Linked DNA regions of Homo sapiens: all the other regions are linked to region 1. The links come from fine-mapping of genetic effects on gene expression. A gene starts in region 1. Each other region holds a variant in brackets. All regions are shown on one strand. Distances are between the middles of the regions. Region 1 holds the start of D2HGDH (D-2-hydroxyglutarate dehydrogenase). Region 2 overlaps D2HGDH (D-2-hydroxyglutarate dehydrogenase). Region 3 overlaps D2HGDH (D-2-hydroxyglutarate dehydrogenase).

The links. PIP is the estimated chance that this variant, and not a neighbour inherited with it, causes the effect.
Region 2: its variant is fine-mapped to the expression of D2HGDH in nucleus accumbens (GTEx, PIP 0.94).
Region 3: its variant is fine-mapped to the expression of D2HGDH in Th2 cells (Schmiedel 2018, PIP 0.95). The same link has a PIP of 0.9 or more in Th17 cells.

What each region holds. Positions count from the first base shown.
Region 1 is chr2:241,732,328-241,738,307 of GRCh38, forward strand. D2HGDH (D-2-hydroxyglutarate dehydrogenase) reads left to right here and starts at 2,303. Exons shown (of 10, transcript NM_152783.5): 1 at 2,303-2,368; 2 at 2,806-3,189. The coding sequence starts at 2,898. RefSeq lists silencers at 1,830-1,879, 1,920-2,969, 2,980-3,089 and an enhancer at 3,130-3,369.
Region 2 is chr2:241,768,676-241,774,655 of GRCh38, forward strand. D2HGDH (D-2-hydroxyglutarate dehydrogenase) reads left to right here. Exons shown (of 10, transcript NM_152783.5): 10 at 1-136. Among named protein-coding and RNA genes, the nearest start is that of GAL3ST2, 5.2 kb to the right of the region's middle. RefSeq lists an enhancer at 2,088-3,000. The variant C/T (reference allele first, on the strand shown) is at 1,989.
Region 3 is chr2:241,756,165-241,762,144 of GRCh38, forward strand. All of the region lies in intron 9 of D2HGDH (D-2-hydroxyglutarate dehydrogenase), which reads left to right. Among named protein-coding and RNA genes, the nearest start is that of GAL3ST2, 18 kb to the right of the region's middle. RefSeq lists a silencer at 4,556-4,756. The variant C/T (reference allele first, on the strand shown) is at 2,844.

The sequences.
Region 1 (5,980 bases):
CTGGACAGGGGCCCTTCCCTGCCTGGCAGCCGAGGCAGAGAGAGAGAGGAGACAGAGAGACAGCTTACGCCATTATTTCTGCTTATTAGAGACTTTTAGTACTTTCACTAATTTTGCTACTGCTATCTAGAAGGCAGAGCCAGGTGTACAGGATGGAACATGAAGGCGGACTAGGAGCGTGACCACTGAAGCACAGCATCACGGGGAGACGGTTAGGCCTCCGGATAACTGCGGGCGAGCCTGACTGATGTCAGGTCCTCCACAAGAGGTGGAGGAGTACAGTCGTCTCTAAACTCCCCCGGGGAAAGGGAGACTCCCTTTTCCGGTCTGCTAAGTAGCGGGTGGTGTTTCTTGACACTTTTCGCTACCGCTAGACCACGGTCCGCTAGGTAACGGGTGTCTTCCCAGACGCTGGCGTCACCGCTAGACCAAGGAGCCCTCTGGTGGCCCTGTCTGGGCATAACAGAAGGCTCGCACTCTTCTGGTCACTCCTCACTATGTCCCCTCAGCTCCTATCTCTGTATGGCCTGGTTTTTCCTAGGTTATGATTGTAGAGCGAGGATTATTATAATATTGGAATAAAGAGTAATTGCTACCAACTAATGATTAATGATATTCATATATAATCATATCTAAGATCTATATCTGGTATAACTATTCTTATTTTATTATACTGGAACAGCTCGTGTCTTCGGTCTCTTGCCTCGGCACCTGGGTGGCTTGCCGCCCACAGTTGGTATCGAACTCCTGACCTCAGGTGATCCACCTGCCTCAGCCTCCCAAAGTGCTGGTATTATGGGCGTGAGCCACCGTGCCTGGTCAGAAAAATCAGTTATTTTAGGGGATGGTATGGGTGGTAATCTTTATGGGTTTTGAATCATTCCTAATCCCAGGGGTCCAAGATGCCACTGGCCTGCTAGTCAAAGGGAGGGCGTGTGGAGGTCAGGTGGTAAGGGGGTCCACAGACCTCATCTGTGGTCGTCTTTCCAGTTCCTGAATGTGTAATTGCAACAGTTACCCTTGACAATGGGCAAACTCCCACACTCATCTGCAGAGCAAGGGCCAGCCAGGTAGGAAGGGCCAGGTGGATGTCTCCTTTCCAGGGTTGTATGAATGATTCACCTGGGAAGAAGGTGAGTGGCCTCTGGGGATGTGGTTAAGGAGGACAGGAATGACTCCTTGCAACTGCTGCTCCAGAGCCTCATCACCAGGACAAATCCAGCTCGCCGGTTTTCTGTGTGACTACCAGGACCCATCTGCTGTCACGGGCGTAGCCTCCACCTCTTGCACAGCTCCGCAGTCCTGCCTCGGGCCAAGTGTGGTCTCCTGCTCTCTGCCCTCATCTGCTCAGAGATTGGCATCCTCTGCACCCGCTAGGGTTCTATGGAATTGGGTGAGCTGAAGTAACAAGTGCTTTGGGAGGCCGACGCGGGCGGATCGCTTGAGTCCAGGAGTTCGAGACCAGCCTGGGCAGCACATGAGACCTCATCTCTACAAAAATACAACAACAACAAAAAATTAGCCGGGTGTGGTGGTGCACGCCCGTAGTCCCAGCTACTTGGGTGGCCGAGGTGGGAGGATGGTTTGAGCTCGGGAGGCAGAGGTTGCAGTGAGCTGAGATCAACCCCAGAACTCCAGCCTGGGCAACAGAGCTAGACCCTGTCTCAAAAAAACACAAAACAAGTGCTGGCGATGCCTCAGGCAGGGGATCCCAGGCCGGGAGGCTCCTCGGGACAGCAGTTACTGCGTCAGGAGGGCAGGAGCTCCCCAGGTGTGCAAAGGGTTTGAGGGCACGGAGGGCTGAACAGGCAGAAGGGACAGGGAGGCAAGAAAACACCTGCAGGAGGCAGCTGCCCCCTAAGCTAAGGCTGGGGACCCAGGAGGGGTGGTCCGTGCAGGAGCTGGGGAGGCCGCTGGGGAAAGGGGCGCCCCCTGGGCTCGGCCTCGGAGGAGCGGGCCGGCCCCCAGGTCCCTCGGCCGAGCCCACGTCCCGGGCCTCGTTCTGGAGAACCCTCCAGCTGCTGCTTGGGCGTCTTGGGCTGCGCTCAGCCTAGTCCCTTCTCTACCTGGAGGGATGCGCCCGACAGCCGGCGCGCCGGAGGCCCTCAGGAAACGCAGGACGAGGCGGTGGCCGTCGAGCCTCCGGTGCCAGTCGGGGCGGGGCTTGGACGGCGGGGCGGGGACTGTAGGCGCGCAGGGCTGGGCCTGGAGGGCAGGCGGGGCGGGGCCCGTTAGGCGCGCGGGGCGGGGCTTCGGCCGCTGGGCGGAGCCGTCAATGCGCAGGCGCGGCGTCGCCCCGCCCACTCCGGCTCGGCGGCTCTGGGCCTGCGGCGGGCGCTGCGGGTTGGAGCTCGGGACGTGATCGTGGGTGCGTGCGCGCGGCCGCGCGGAGCGCTGGGCTGAGGGTCCCGGTCTGCGGTTCAGCCGCGGGTCGGGGTGGCGGGGCGCGATCTCGGGCGCCGTCAGCCAGTCGGTGCCTGTGGGGGGAGGGGGACGGCGCTGCAGCTCGTCACGTGACCGCGTGGAACACGCGCGCGCGTCCGCGGGATCCCCTCGGGGGGCGAGCTCGGAGGAACGGGGTCCTGGGCAAGGTCCCGGCGAGGCCGCCCCGAGCCTGCGCGTCGCTAAGTCCAGGCCTGCTGCGTGGGGCTTCGCGCGCTCGCGGGGTTGCGGCCCGGGCAGGGGGAGGGCCCGGGTGCTCGGAGCCTTCCCTTCGCTGCCCTCCTGCCCCCTCCCTGCTTCTGCAAGCGTGTTTCAATTTGTACAACGTGCATAAAACATGAAATTACCCTTGGCCACTTCCAGGCGCGCAGCCAGCGGCTCCCTGCCCTTCCCCTCCGGGCCCTGAGTACCGGCCCCCCACCAAGGAGGAGCCCGAGGTCTCCGTCCCGGCGGCGATGCTGCCCCGTCGGCCTCTGGCGTGGCCCGCGTGGCTGTTGCGGGGTGCTCCGGGAGCCGCGGGTTCTTGGGGTCGGCCGGTTGGCCCCCTGGCCCGCAGAGGCTGCTGCTCCGCCCCGGGGACCCCCGAGGTGCCGCTGACCCGGGAGCGCTACCCCGTGCGGCGCTTGCCGTTCTCCACGGTGTCTAAGCAGGACCTGGCCGCCTTTGAGCGCATCGTGCCCGGCGGGGTCGTCACGGACCCGGAAGCGCTGCAGGCTCCCAACGTGGACTGGTTGCGGACGCTGCGAGGTGGGTGAGGCTTGGGAAGCTGCGGCGTTTCCGCGTCCCTGCTCCGCTGCGCCTTCCCGTGGAGGCTTCAAAGCGGGCTGAGAACAACCTGGATGGGGGTGCCAGCCCCTGGCTGCGCTGAGAGGGGCGTGTGCACCGCCACAGGCTGCTGGAATGAATGACCACGAACGAGTCGCTTAGAACAACCCAAGTTTTGTTGTTGTTGTTGTTTTGTTTTTTCTTTTTTTTAAGACGGAGTCTCACTCTGTCGCCAGGCTGGAGTGCAGTCACGGAGTTTCACTCTGTCGCCAGGCCGGAGTGCAGTGGCGCGACGTCGGCTCACTGCCACCTCTGCCTCCCGGGTTCAAGCGATTTGCCTGCCTCAGCCTCCCTAGTAGCTGCGACTACAGGCGCCCGCCACCACGTTCCGCTAATTTTTGTATTTTTAGTAGAGACAGGGTTTCACCATGTTGGCCAGGATGGTCTCGATCTCTTGACCTCGTGATCCGTCCGCCTCGGCTTCCCAAATTGCTGGGATTACAGGCGTGAGCCACCCCGCCCTGCCAACAACCCAAGTTTGCCTGGCGCAGTGGCTCTGCCTGTAATCTCAGCTGCCCTGGAGGCTGAAGCCAGGAGTTCAAGACCAGCCTGGGCAACATAGCCAGAACCCCCGCCCCACTCACCTCTAAAAATAAAAATAAATAAATAAAAGTAGCCGGCCCAGGATTGAAAAAACAAAAAGTAAAAAAGTTACTCCAGCCCAGGAGTTCCAGTTTTAGTGGACTATGATCTCACCACTGCATTCCAGCCTGGGCAACAGAGCAAGACTACATCTCTAAAACAAAACAGAATTCCCCTCCCCACCAAACCCCACAAGTTTGTTCTCTAAGCTCTGGAGGCCAAAAGTGTGAAATCAGGGTATCACAGGGCTGCGCTCCCTCCAAAGCCTCCAGAGGAGGCTCCTTCCTGCCTCTTGTAGCTCTAGCTCCTGGTGGCCCCAGGTACCAAATTACTCCAGTCTCTGCCTCTGTTTTTCATACAGGTTTTTCTTCTCTGTGACTCTTCTCCAGTTGTCTTATAAAGACACTTCTCATTGGATTGAGGGCCCACCCTAATCCAGGATGATCGTATCTCAGTACTGTCAACTTAATTACATCTGCAAAGACCGTTTATCCGTTTTTTTTTTTTTTGGAGATGAAGTCTCACTCTTTTTGCCCAGGCTGGAGTGCAATGGTGCAATCTTGGCTCACTGCGACCTTCCCCTCCTGGGTGTAAGCAATTCAGCCTCCCAAGTAACTGGGATTACAGGTGCCCGCCACCATGCCCGGCTAATTTTTGTATTTTTAGTAGAGACGGGGTTTCACCATGTTGACCACGCTGGTCTCGAACTCCTGACTTCGGGTGATCCACTCACATTGGCCTCCCAAAGTGCTGAGATGACAGGCATGAGCCACTGCACTTAGCTGGACCGTTTTTTCTTTTTGTTTTTTTGAGACGGAGTCTCGCTCTGTTGCCCAGGCTGGAGTGCAGTGGCGTGATCTCGGCTTACTGCAAGCTCCGCCTCCTGGCTTCACGCCATTCTCCTGCCTCCGCCTCCCGAGTAGCTGGGACTACAGGCGCCCGCCACCACGCCCGGCTCATTCTTTTTGTATTTTTAGTAGAGACAGGGTTTTATCGTGTTAGCCAGGATGGTCTCAATCTCCTGACATCGTGATCCGCCTGCCTCGGCCTCCCAAAGTGCTGGGATTACAGGCATGAGCCACCATGCCCAGCCCCATTTTTTCAAATAAGGTCCCATTCACAGGTCTTGGGGCATTGGGAAGCAGACGTATCTTTTTGGAGCCCATTAGGTAAGATGCAGGGCTCCTGGCCAACAATGCCTGCTCCTCTCCTCCCACTGCACTTCTGCCCAGTGGCATACAAGTCTGTGCACGAATGAGGGACTTCTCAGCCTCTGGGGCTGGCACTTCCTTTTGGTAACAGTGCCCAGTTTTCTCTTTTTTTATTTTTTTGAGATGGAGTCTTGCCCTGTCACTCAGGGTGGAGTGCAGTGGCACGATCTCCCCTTACTGCAACCTCCACTTCCTGGGGTCAAGCGATTTTCCTGTCTCAGCCTCCTGAGTAGCTGGGACTACAGCTGGGTTACACGCCTGTAACCCAGTTCTGTGGGAGATCGCTTGAGCCCAGGAGTTCAAGACCAGCCTGAGCAACATGGTGAAACTCTATCTCTACAGAAAATTAAAAATTAGCCGGGTATGGTGGCATGTGTCTGTGTGCTAAAATAGTAAAGCGAGGTAGAAGAGAATTGGTTGACTCTTAATTTACAACAAAATGATATATTTAAACCTGTGGAACTGGCACCAGGTCCTGGGGCTGAACATAGGGTGTGCTGTCATTGGGAAGATCTGGAATTGTTTTTATCTTTTTTTTGTTGGCCCTTGTAGAAGATTGAAATTATTAAGAACACTCAGAAAGTTTCCAGACCGTGTAATCTGGGAGTGCAGCGTATGTTAAAACAGTTCAGAAAGTTAGCAAGTTGAACTGGGGTCTAGGCTCAGATAATGGAAGCAGCTCTTTCCCTGCAGAAAGGCTGGGAGTCACTGGAAATCGCTGGACCAATGGTCACTGTGTAGGAGCTCTCTTGAGTGGAAGGGCCCCCACCCTCACCCTGCTCCCGAAGTAAGGACCCCTCTGGGGCGATCTCAAGCTGCTGCCCTGAGTGCACACCATGGCCCAGGGCCTGTGGGCTCACGAATGTTGTCCCCGGAGGCAGGTGAGGATGGACGCCCACCCTGGGCTTGGCTAAGTCGGG
Region 2 (5,980 bases), 36 kb after region 1:
CCGGCACGGACAAGGGCCACTGCAGAGTGTGTTTCTGCTCGTCAGCTGCCCTGGGCAGCGGATGGGCTGGGCGATGCAGCTGGATGCACATCTCATTCTGTCATGAATGTCCAGTAAAAATCTGAATTGGTTGCAACCTTCTCTTTGCTTCTGTTACTGGAAAATCATCTTTCAGAGCCCATTGTGAAGGGCCTGTGCATCCCATTCCCACAGCCCCTGGACCACTGGGGCCATAGTGTGGCCGGGCCTGACACTACTGTGACTGTCACTGTGCCTCCTGTCCCCATGCACTGTCTGGTGGCAGCTGAGCTCCCACCGGCTGCACAGGGCAGGCCTGGACATGGAACGGGCAACTCATAACCCTTGGTGGCCCTGGAGGCCCTCAGCAGCTGGGCCTGACCGAGGTGTATCCACGGGCCCCTCCTGTCCCTGTGGGTGTCGAGGACCTCGGATCCTGCTCAGAGGGGGAAACATACCTCTGACCCGCTGCCCTGCAGAGCCCGCCTGCCTAGCCAGGGCCTCTGTGTGGACAGGCCACGTCCTCCTGGTGGAGGTCCTCGGGGGATGGGTGGGGGCCTTGGTCCAGCATGATTTTTTTTTTTTGAGACAGGATCTCACTCTGTCACCCAGGCTGGAGTGCAGGGGTATAGTCACAGCTCAGTGCAGCCTCCACCTCCTGGGCTCAAGTGATCCTCCCACCTCAGCCTCCTGAGTAGCTGGGAGTACAGGTGTGAGCCATCATGCCCAGATAATTTTTTTTTTTTTTTTTGAGACAGAGTCTTGTTCTGTCACCCAGGCTGGAGTGCAGTGGTGCGATCTTGGCTCACTGCAAGTTCCGCCTCCCGGGTTCACGCCATTCTCCTTCCTCAGCCTCCCGAGTAACTGGGACTACAGGTGTCCACCACCGTGCCCGGCTAATTTTTTGTATTTTTAGTAGAGATGGGGTTTCACCTTCTTAGCCAGGATGGTCTTGATCTCCTGACCTCATGATCTGCCCGCCTCGGCCTCCCAAAGTGCTGGGATCACAGGCATGAGCCACCGCACCCGGCCATGCCCAGATAATTTTTAAATTTTTTTTTTTGTAGAGATGAGGTGTCCCTGTGTTGCCCAGGCTGGTCTTGAACTCCTGGCCTCCAGCGGCCTCCCACCTCAGCCTCCCAAAGTGCTGGGATTACAGGCCCGAGCCTCTGCGTCCAGCCGATCCAGCATGCTTTGAAGGCACAAATCAGGGGCACTTTCATGCTGGCCCAGCAGAGCCAGTGGGTCCCGCCCAATGCCTGGGCTACTTCCTGCTGTGCCTGGGGGCACCTGGGGCTGTCCTGCCTCACTGGCCAAGGCCCGGCTCTGTCCCTGGGCTCTGGCCACTGTTCTGCCATCCCAGGCTGGGTACCCATGGGCAGCCCGACAGTATCTGTTGCACAGAGCAGACCCCAGGCCCCATGGGTGCCTGACACGAAGCCCCACAGCGTGTGCCCGCGTCCCCCGAGGTCAGCCGGCGGCTCCTGCCCTTCCCTCTGACCTCTGGTTGGGGGCCGGCCATTTTTCTGCTTGTTCCTCTAGCTCTGCTACTGGGCACATGGTCCGTGCTGGGTAGGCTGCAGGCCAGGGTGAGTTGCTGACCCGCTGACCCTGGCTGTGCACCTGCCCTCCTGCCCTGGGTGGCTGCTGCTGGCCCAGGGGTGACTTGGGGGCTTTCAAGCTTCTGCCCGTGCTGGCCGCACGACCCCACGTCCCACCCTGGGTAGGGACTTGTGATTCTCAGAGCTGGGGTCCGTTGCTTTCCTAAGGACCTCCGGCCCTGGTCGTGGTCTAAATGCTCACTCCTGTTGTTGGAGAGGCCAGCCGGGTGACAGGGAAAAGCCCAGAGCCCCGGGCTTCCCGTGAGGATCTGGGCTCAGCATGGGCTGTGGGGCTGCAGAGGCCTGGCCTTGCCTGCTGAGGGACACCCGCTGGTAGTGCCTGCAGAGGGGGGAGGAGGAATTCCTCCC[C/T]CTAGTGCCCTCTGGACCCTGGGAGAGCAAGACCTCTGCATCCACACTGCCTTCCGCTGGGCCTCTGGGGACTGGGGAAGCGGACACAGTCCAGGACTGTTGGAGGAGGAAGAGGCTGCGGCTGCTCTTCCCTGGGGGTCCGGCTCCAGGAGGCTGCGGTGACCGTTGGGCCGGAGCAGGCCAGTGCCGGGCACGTCCTGCCCATGACAGCCCTGCTGCCAGCCGTGGGCACTTGTTCCTGGAGCTCCGTGGCTGGGTCCTGCCGTCTCCGCTGCTGCCCTGCCCTGCCATGTTCACCTCCAGTTTATCCAGCAATGGGGAGAGGGGCTTCTTAGATCCCCCTCAGGCTTTTCTTTTGTGCCTTTAGATATGTGAAATACAACACAGCCAGGCAAAGCAGGTGCCGGTGAGACACCTGGCTGGCCCGAGCTGGCCCGAAGAACTGCCTGTCTGCCATGAGGAAAACCCACACTGCGTGGTGGCTGGGAGGCCAGGAGTTTTCACAAGCCGGAAACCTGTTAGATTTCTCTACCTGACAGCAGGAAAATCTGATGAGACCCGATCGCATCCAGGCAGGCCGTGTTCTCGCAGCCCGCGGGTTAACACAGACTCCGAGTGACTCCGACGCAGGAGAACGCGGCGAATCTGCGTGAGGCAGGCCACCAGCCTTGGTGCCCCGGAGACAGCTCCCCCAACGGCCATGTGACGGCGTTGAGTGTCCGTGGTCAGGTGTGTGTAAGAGACGCGCAGAGAATTCCACGCCGTCCCAACCTCCCAGCCGGAGGCTCTGACGAGGCCTGCAGCCACGCGGAAAGAGCAATGAGGAGCACGTGTGTGGGGAGGAAGGCGGGTTCTGGCCCCGTTCCTTCCGCAGCAGCTCCGGCCTGGCGGGTTCTGACGGAATTCTGCAGCGGCTCCAGCCAGGGTCGTCGGGGCGGGGTGGGTGCTCAGGGGCGGCCTTTGTGTTCGGATTAGAAGCTGGTGATTGTCACATTAAGACCTCTAAGCTGCTGCAATCTGAGAAGATGTTACACAACCAGGGCCCCTGAGCTGAGGCCAAGGAGGGGGCCAGGAGAGTGGTGGGAGGGGCCCCAGGCAGGGCCAGAGCTGCCTGTGTACAGCAGGGGAGAGGGGAGAAGGGGTGGGCCGGGTGGTCTCAGCCCCAGGGAGAGTGGAGTGCCCGCCCCTCCCCTCCCCCAGGACGGCTGGCCCCTGGGAGAGCCCCTGGGGGAGCCAGTTTCCTGTAAGCAGAAGGGCAAGTGGTTGGGACCCAGAGGTGTCTGACAGTTGTGGACTTAGAGCCCAGAGGAAGGGTTTGGGGTTTGGGGCTCCTGGGACGCCGCAGGCCCCTGAGGACGTCCATCAGGATCCTGGCAGTGTGGAGGTGTAGGGTCCAGCCCTACGGGGCTTAGCGGGTGTTTTCCCTGTGTGTGGAGATGAGGGATTGTAATAAATAAAGACACAAGATAAAGAGAGAAAGAGAAAGCAGCTGGGCTCTGGGGACCACTACCATCAAGACGCGGGGACCAGTAGTGGTCCCAGAGGGCTAGGCCCACTGATATTTATTGCATACAAGACAAGGGGGCAGGGTAAGGAGGGTGAATCTTCTCAGTGATTGACAAGGTGAAGTAAGTCATGTGATTACAGGATAGGGGGCCCTTCCCTTTTAGGTAGCCGAAGCAGAGACGGAAGGCAGCAAACGTCAGCATTTTCTTCTCTGCACTTATAAGAAAGATCAAAGACTTTAAGACTTTCACTATTTGTTTTACCGCTATCTGCTACGAACTTCAAAGAGGAACCAGGAGTACAGGAGGAGTATGAAATGCAACAAAGAGTAATATTAAAAGCTAATGATTAATAATGTTTATAATAATGATTGATAATTGTCCATGATCATCTCTATATCTAATTTGTATTATGACTAATCTTATTCCAACTATTTTCTTTATTATACTGAAACAGTTTGTGCCTTCAGTCTCTTGCCTCGGCACCTAGGTACTTTCGCCCACATGGAGGCAGAGGTGACAGGCGTACAGGGCAGTGTGTCTGGACCCAGATGGCAGGCACGTTAACGACCAGTGACCAGGGCTCTGCCCACCTGGCCCGGCGCGTTGGCCCCCCAGCGATGTGGCTTCACGCCGGCTGCTTTCCTGAGCGCTCGGGGTTTAGGTCCTGTTCTGCTGCCTCTGAGCACCTGTGACCTGAAAAGGCCCTACCCTCGGCCTGGGTCCCTTGGGGTGCCACTGACCTTCTGGGACCCTGAAGCTGCCTGTGTGGTAGGCGTGTCCACCCCCACACCCACCCAAACGATGCAGAGGAGTGAAAAATGATTCCTCGAGGAGCTGGTCCAGGGCCGGGCGCGGTGGCTCACACCTGGAATCCCAGCACTTTGAGAGGCCGAGGTGGGAGGATTGCTTGAGCCCAGGAGTTTGAGAAGAGCTTGGGCACACATGGTGAGACTCTGCCTCTACAAAAAATTAAACATAGCCAGGCGTGGTGGCATGCACCTAGAGTTCCAGCTACAGGAGGCTCTTACAGGGGAGGAGGGACAAGCCTGAGCTCAGGAGGTCGAGGCTGTGGGGAGCCCCACGTGACTACACCACTGCACTCCAGCCTGGGTGACAGAGCGAGACCCTCTCTGGAAAAATAAAAAGGAGCTGGTCAGGGAGGCCGAGAGCAAATAGCTGCTAGAATGTGGCGCTGCCTGGGACGGGGAGGGCTGGGGGCCCTTGGGGTGGACCAGGAGCCTGAGTTGAGGGTTAGGGGCAGGTGGAGGGGCTGGGAAGCTCGGGGCTGTCTTAGGAGAGCCCTCCTGACACCTAGGCCCTGGGCCGGGTTCCTCCTGGTGGAACATCACAGACCTGAGCCCTCCCACTCACTTTTCCTTGGACCCCACAGGCAAGGAGCTGGGGCGGCTGTCTGCTCCCAGGCTGAGGCCCCGGGACGGGCCCCTCCTCGCTTTGTTAGCCGGTTAGACCCAGGGCGGGCGCAAGCCCTTGGCAGTGCTCCCCAGCACTGCCCCTTGGACCTCAGGGGTGTGGGGAGGACAGACCAGGGCAGGACCCAGGAGGCCACAAGGGCTGGTGGGGGTCATGGTCCTGGCAGCCCCAGTCAAAGGCTCTGCCCTCCTGCACCCACCCCCAGAGGGGGATCCTCTCGAGGGAGCATGGGCCCTGTCTCCCCACCTGCCCTTCTGGGAGATCAAGAGTTGCTGTGAAGTTTCTAGAACAGTGCCCGGCCTGGCGGACGGGCACGGAGGTGCCTCCTGGGTGTGCCCGGGTGCGGCCTGACAGGGCTGGGGTCCTGTTGGGTTGTGGGCAGGTCCTCAGACGGCCTCCTGGCTCCTGCCTCGCCCCTCCCCACAGGCCCTGTGCCAGCGGCTGTGCAAACAGAGGCCAGGAAGCGAGGTGATGCTCCCTTTGTTTCTGGCAGAGTGTGTGGCACCTGGAGCTACCTTCCGGGTTCCATGGCCCTGGGGCCCTGGGGCCCTGGGGACAGGGAGGGAATGGGATGCACAGCGGCCAGGGGTGTTCAGCGTCACCGGTGGAAGGGGTGAAACCTGTTCTTCCTGGTGGTGAGGGTTTGCCCCTTGACTCCGGAAAGCAGAGACCGTGGAGCAGGGCCCACTTCAAAGCACAGTGCTGGGGGCTGTGGCCTCGGCCCTCTGTGGACGTGGGCGGATGGGTGGCCCTGGACTGGTGAAGGACTGGCCGGGAGTTCTGTAGGGCCCCCACCTCCTGCCAGCGCCCAGCCCACAGTCGACCACTGCCTGCCCGGGGCAGGAGACTTCCTTCCTGCAGCCCCGGACCCGGGATCTGAGACCTAGAAGCTGACTCCATCCTTTGACTGCTCTGTTCTGAGCTAGGCCACCCCTGCCCCTGCCCCGAGGTGGCCCTGGGCTTGCCCGCCCGCCTGCAGTGTCGGCTGAAGAGGGTAACGTGCGTGCGCCCCGGCTGCTCCCGGCTGCTCCCGGCTGCTCCCCGGCTGCTCCC
Region 3 (5,980 bases), 24 kb after region 1:
GACAGGGAAGGGAAAATCCTAATCGTTGTCATGACTCGTTTTGAGTATTTTGGAAAAGACTGCCATCGTGCACTTGTAATGGCAGAGCGCATGGCTCAGCTTGTCAGAACGTTCTGGGATCTTCAGTGGCATGCAGGGTTGGAGGGCATCAGCCTTAACCCCGGAGTCCGGGATGCGGGTCTCAGGGGCTCCTCTCACAGGGCCCGGCCCCGAGGCCTTTGCAGTGCTTAGCCCCCAGCTGCTCTACCCCTTCAGATGGGAGGATTTCAAAACCACGTTCAGATCATCTTTTTTCTGCAGAAAAATCATGCTTTAACGTGTAAGCTATTAATTCATAGGAAGAAAATGTTTCAATCCTATCAGTTCTTTTTTTTGAGACGCAGTTTCACTCTTGTCACCCAGGCTGGAGTGCAGTGGCGCAATCTCGGCTCACTGCAACCTCCATCTTCTGGGTTCAAGCAATTCTCCTGCCCCAGCCTCCCGAGTCTCTGGGATTACAGGCGTCCACCACCAGGCCTGGCTAATTTTTGTATTTTTAGTAGAGACAGGGTTTTGCCATGTTGGCCAGGCTGGTCTTGAACTCCTGACCTCTGGTGATCTGCCCACTTCGGCCTCTCAAAGTGCTGGGATTACAGGAGTGAGCCACCGTGCCCAGCTGTTTTCCTGTCAGTTCTTTGGAGCCTTGGAGCGAGGTGTCTAAAAGGCCAGCTTATAGGGCAGGGGTGGGGGCAGTGCTGGGGGTGTGGAGCATGGCTTTGGGGCCTGACAGATATTCACTCTGGCTTCTTCCCTGGCCTGGTGGCACTGGAGTCACTGACCTGAAGCCTCCATCCATCTGCCAGTAAATGGGATTCAGGTGCCACCTCTGTGGTTACAGGAGGGTCTAGGGTTGTGTACGTGACGACAATAACACGTATTACTTACGAAGGTCCCGTGCTGTCCCAGGCATTATTCTAAGCACTTGATGTGGAGAAACTTCTCTGCACAACAGCTTTTAGGACTGGTGGTGTTGCTTCCCTTTTACACACATGTAAACAGGTTCAGAGAATTTAAGTAACTTGCCCAAAGTTGCCCAGCCTGTGGAGGGGTACATCTGGAGGATTTGACATAGGATGGATGGTAATCTTCTGTGATAGGAAGGCAGGACTCCTGAATGGGAAGGGGGTAAGGGCATGATGAGTGTGTCATCATCCAGAGAAGAGGGGTACGGGAGCCCCAGTATTTCAGAATATGGGAAGGGGGTAAGGGCATGATGAGTGTGTCATCATCCAGAGAAGAGGGGTACGGGAGCCCCAATATTTCAGAATATGGGAAGGGGTTAAGGGCATGATGAGTGTGTCATCATCCAGAGAAGAGGGGTACGGGATCCCCAATATTTCAGAATATGACCTCAAGCCAGGAGGAGGCTTCCTCCTCTCCAGGTAACTTCAGTCTCTCTTGGCCACAGATAAAGCAGACCATCTTGGTGAGAAATGGAATGAGCCCTCTGTTACTTTGTAAAAGCAAGAATGGGCCAGGCGCAGTGGTTCATGCCTGTAATCCCAGCACTTTGGGAGGCTGAGGCGGGTGGATCACCTGAGGTCAGGAGTTCGACACCAGCCCGGCCAACATGATGAAACCTCGCCTCTACTAAAAATACAAAAAATTAACTGGGCATGGTGGCAGGCACCTGTAATCCCAGCTACTCGGGAGGCTGAAGCAGGAGAATCACTTGAACCCAGGAGGCGGAGGTTGCAGTGAGCAGAGGTTGCACCATTGCACTCCAGCCTGGGTGACAAGAGTGAAACTCCATCTCAAAAAAAAAAAAAAAAGCAAGAATGAATGTTGAATTTTTAAAATGTGTTTCCTGCATCTGTCATGGTGACCGGGTGCTTGTCTGCCTGTAATCAGTGTGGTAAGTTACACTGATTGATCCCTCTGGAGTCAGATGAGTCTGTGTTTCTGGGGTAGGCCCAAGGTGGCCATGATCCTTTCTGTATCTTGCTGGATGAGTTTGTTTATGTTTGGTGTGGGATTTTGACAGGGGTCTTGGTGGATGATTCTGTTCCACGCTGTTCCTTTCTTCTGTCCATGCTGGATTTTGGTATCAAAATCATAACATGAATATTATGCAGAACTTGCCAGTGGAGCTGTTTGGGCCTGGAGGTTTTTTTGAGGGAGTATTTTAAAATTATAGCTCAGCTTCTTCAATAGCTTTAGGACTTTCAAGCTTTCCTTTCTTCTAGATTGGTATTGCTAATTTTTTCCCATATTGGCATAAAGTTGTTCGAATATTCTTTTGTTGTCTTTTTATGTAGCATTTGTGGGATGCCCCCACACCCTTTTTTTTGGTGGGGACAGGGTCTCGCTGTCACCCAGGCTGGAGTGCAGTGGCTCACCACAGCCTCGACCTTCTGGGATCAAGCAGGCCCGCCACCTCACACACACCAGCAGGCCTGGCTAACTAAAAAAAAATTTTTTTGTAGGCCCGGTGCAGTGGTTCACGCCTATAATCTCAGTACTTCAGGAAGCCAAGGCTGGAAGGATCACTGGAGTCCAGTAGTTCTAGACCAGCCTGGGCAACACAGTGACATCTGATCTATACCGCCCCCCGCCCCACAATATATGTGTGTGTGTGTGTGTGTGTGTGTGTGTGTGTGTGTGTGTGTAGAGCCAGACTCATGTAGAGCCAGTTGTGTGGCCGGACCGGTCTTGAACTCCGGGGCCTCAAGCAAATGCTCCCTCCTTGGCCTCTCAAAGCCAGAGATTACAGGCGTGAGGTACTGTGCCTGGCATTATTTGCTGCTTGCATTATCATTCCTTCTTTGACCGATGAGTTATGCAGAAGTGTGTTTCTTAATTTC[C/T]AAACGTGGTGGTTTTCTAGTTATTTTAAAAATTATTGATTTCTTTTTTATTGCATTATACCCAGGAAACTTCGTCCTTATCAGATCAGATTTTTGAAACTTGATCAGTGGCAGCTTATGATCAGCCTTCGTAACTGTGGAGTGCTTGAAAAGAATGTGCTCTCTGCAGTTGCTGGAATCAGTGTTTGTACAGATCCATCAGATAGAAGTATACGTCGCGTGTTCATTCTACATCCTGCTGACCTGCCACTCCCTGAGGGAGGTGTTAGAAATCTGCTGACAACAGACTAATCTGTTCCTCCTGTAGCTTTGCCAGTTCTGGAGACGTGTTCTTAGGGGCATAGGACATGAGGTTCGTCTCTTTGTTTTGGGAAACTGAATCTCCTAACGCGATGGACTCGCTCTTTATCTCCAGCATTGCCCGCTGCCTTGGTGTCTGCTTTGTTTATTACACAGTGATGCTAACTTTCTTTTATTTAGTGTTTGCCTGATGTGTTGTTTTTCCTCCGGTTAGCTTCAGCTTTTCCATCCTTAGTGATTTAGATGTGTTTCTTGTGGACGCCCCCGGACAGGTTTCTTGCGTACTTGTTTGCCGTCTTGAATGAGAGCGTTTGGCTGCTGAGCACGTGCTGTGGCCCACTGTTTGGATTTGTCTACTTCACCCTGCTCTTTGTCTCTCACTTCTTGTCTATTTTTTCCTCTGTTTTTTGCTCTTCTGGTTTATGTTCTTTGTCATTTAGCTTTTTGCCGTTTACTAACTGTTGGTGGTCGCCCTGGCACCACAGTGGACATTTCTAGCCCTCTGGGTTTGAGGTTAATCAGAGTCACTATCTTCCTCCCAAATAATGTGTGATGGTGAATTCTCTGCGTCCACTTGTCTGGGCCCTGGTACCCTCGTTTGGTCAAACTCCAGTTTGGATGTTTCTGTGAAGATATTTTTTATGTGTGATTAACATTTAAATCAGTAGACGTTGAGTACAGGAGATCTCCCACCACAGTGTGGGTGGGCCTTACCCAATCAGTCGAAGGACTTCGCCACAGCGTGGGTGGGCCTTACCCAGTCGAAGGCCTTCGCCACAGCATGGGTGGGCCTTACCCAATCAGTCGAAGGACTTCGCCACAGCGTGGGTGGGCCTTACCCAATCAGTCGAAGGCCTTTGCTACAGTGTGGGTGGGCCTTACCCAATCAGTCGAAGGACTTCGCCACAGCGTGGGTGGGCCTTACCCAATCAGTCGAAGGCCTTTGCTACAGTGTGGGTGGGCCTTACCCAATCAGTCGAAGGACTTCGCCACAGCGTGGGTGGGCCTTACCCAATCAGTCGAAGGCCTTTGCTACAGTGTGGGTGGGCCTTACCCAATCAGTCGAAGGCCTTTGCCACAGCGTGGGTGGGCCTTACCCAATCAGTCGAAGGCTTTTTGCCACAGCGTGGGTGGGCCTTACGCAATCAGTTGAAGGCTTTTTGCCACAGCGTGGGTGGGCCTTACCCAGTCAAAGGCCTTTGCCACAGCGTGGGTGGGCCTTACCCAATCAGTCAAAGGCCTTTGACACAGCGTGGGTGGGCCTTGCCCAATCAGTCGAAGTCCTTCGCCACAGTGTGGGTGGGCCTTACCCAATCAGTCGAAGTCCTTTGCCACAGTGTGGGTGGGCCTTACCCAATCAGTCGAAGGACTTCGACACAGCGTGGGTGGGCCTTACCCAATCAGTCGAAGGCCACAAGAGCAGAAATCTAAGATCTCTTAAGGAAGAGAGGATTCTGACCCAGATGGAGACTCAAGCTGCAGCACCAGCTCCTGCTGGGATCTCCAGCCTGCTGACCTGGACTTCAGATTTTAGACTTAGCTCCCTCAGTCACATGAGTCAGTTCATTAAAATCAGTGTCTGTCATCTCCCTGTGTCTCAGTGTGTCTCTCCATCTTTCTCTCTCTGTTTGTTTCTCTAAATATGTATAATCTCACTCTTGCTCGCACTGTCTGTACACACACATCCTGCTGGTTCTGCCTCTCTGGGAGCCCTGATGGCTGCACAGTGCGAGGACTTCAGGGCCCCGTCACTTTGGCTGTCGTTTACCCCCCAGTTTATGGTGGCCCCTGTATTTGCGGGCTCCACATCTGCAGATTCAACCATAAAAATAACAATACAACAATAAAAAATAAACAAAAGACGATGTAGTATAACAGTGACAGACACAGCATTTCCGTCGTACCAGGAATCGTAAGTAATCTAGAGGTGATTTAAAGTATACAGGAGGGGCCGGGCACAGTGGCTCACGTCTGTAATCCCAGCAATACGGGAGGCCAAAGCGGGTGGATCACCGGAGGTCAGGAGTTCAATACCAGCCTGGCCAACATGGTGACACCCCATCTCTACTAAAAATACAAAAATTAGCCAGGCATGGTGGCGTGTGCCTGTAATCCCAGCTGCTTGGGAGGCTGAGGCAGGAGAATTGCTTGAATCTGGGAGGCGGAGGTTGCAGTGAGGCGAGGTTGTGCCACTTCACTCCAGCCTGGGCAAAAGAGCGAAACTCCGTCTCAAGAAAGAAAAGTATACAGGAGGATGTGTGTAGTTTATATGCAAATCCTATGCCATTTCCTGTCAGAGACTCGAGCATCTCAGGATTTTGATATCCGAGGGGTCCTGTATCCAGTCCCCCAGGGACACTGAGGGGCACCTGCATGCTGTTCGGTGGTGTATTCTGGTTCTGCCTTGTTCAGTCACACATAACCCTGTCACCATGTCACCATCCTGATTCTGCGTAGCCAGTTTGCACACAGCTTCTGCTTGAATCTCAGCCTCCAGAATTTTCCCTGGCATGGAAAAATAGGTGACGGAACAGCTCAGATTTTCTTTGTCTGGAAATGTACTGATTTAGTTGATAAAAATGTCTTTTCCTCAGTGGATTTCCGTGGTTCTGGGTTGACAGTTGCTTCCCAGCAGCAGGAGGGAGTCTCTGTTCTCTCTTCTGATGTCTGCTGGTGCGGAGACAGCCTCAGTTCAGGGCAGTTCCCTTCGGGGGAATGGAGGGAACAGAGGGAAATAAATAATTTCTTTCTTTTTCTTTTCCTTTTTTTTTTTTTTTTTTTTGAGATGGAGTCCCGCTCTGTCACCCAGGCTGGAGTGCAGTGGTGCGATCTTGGCT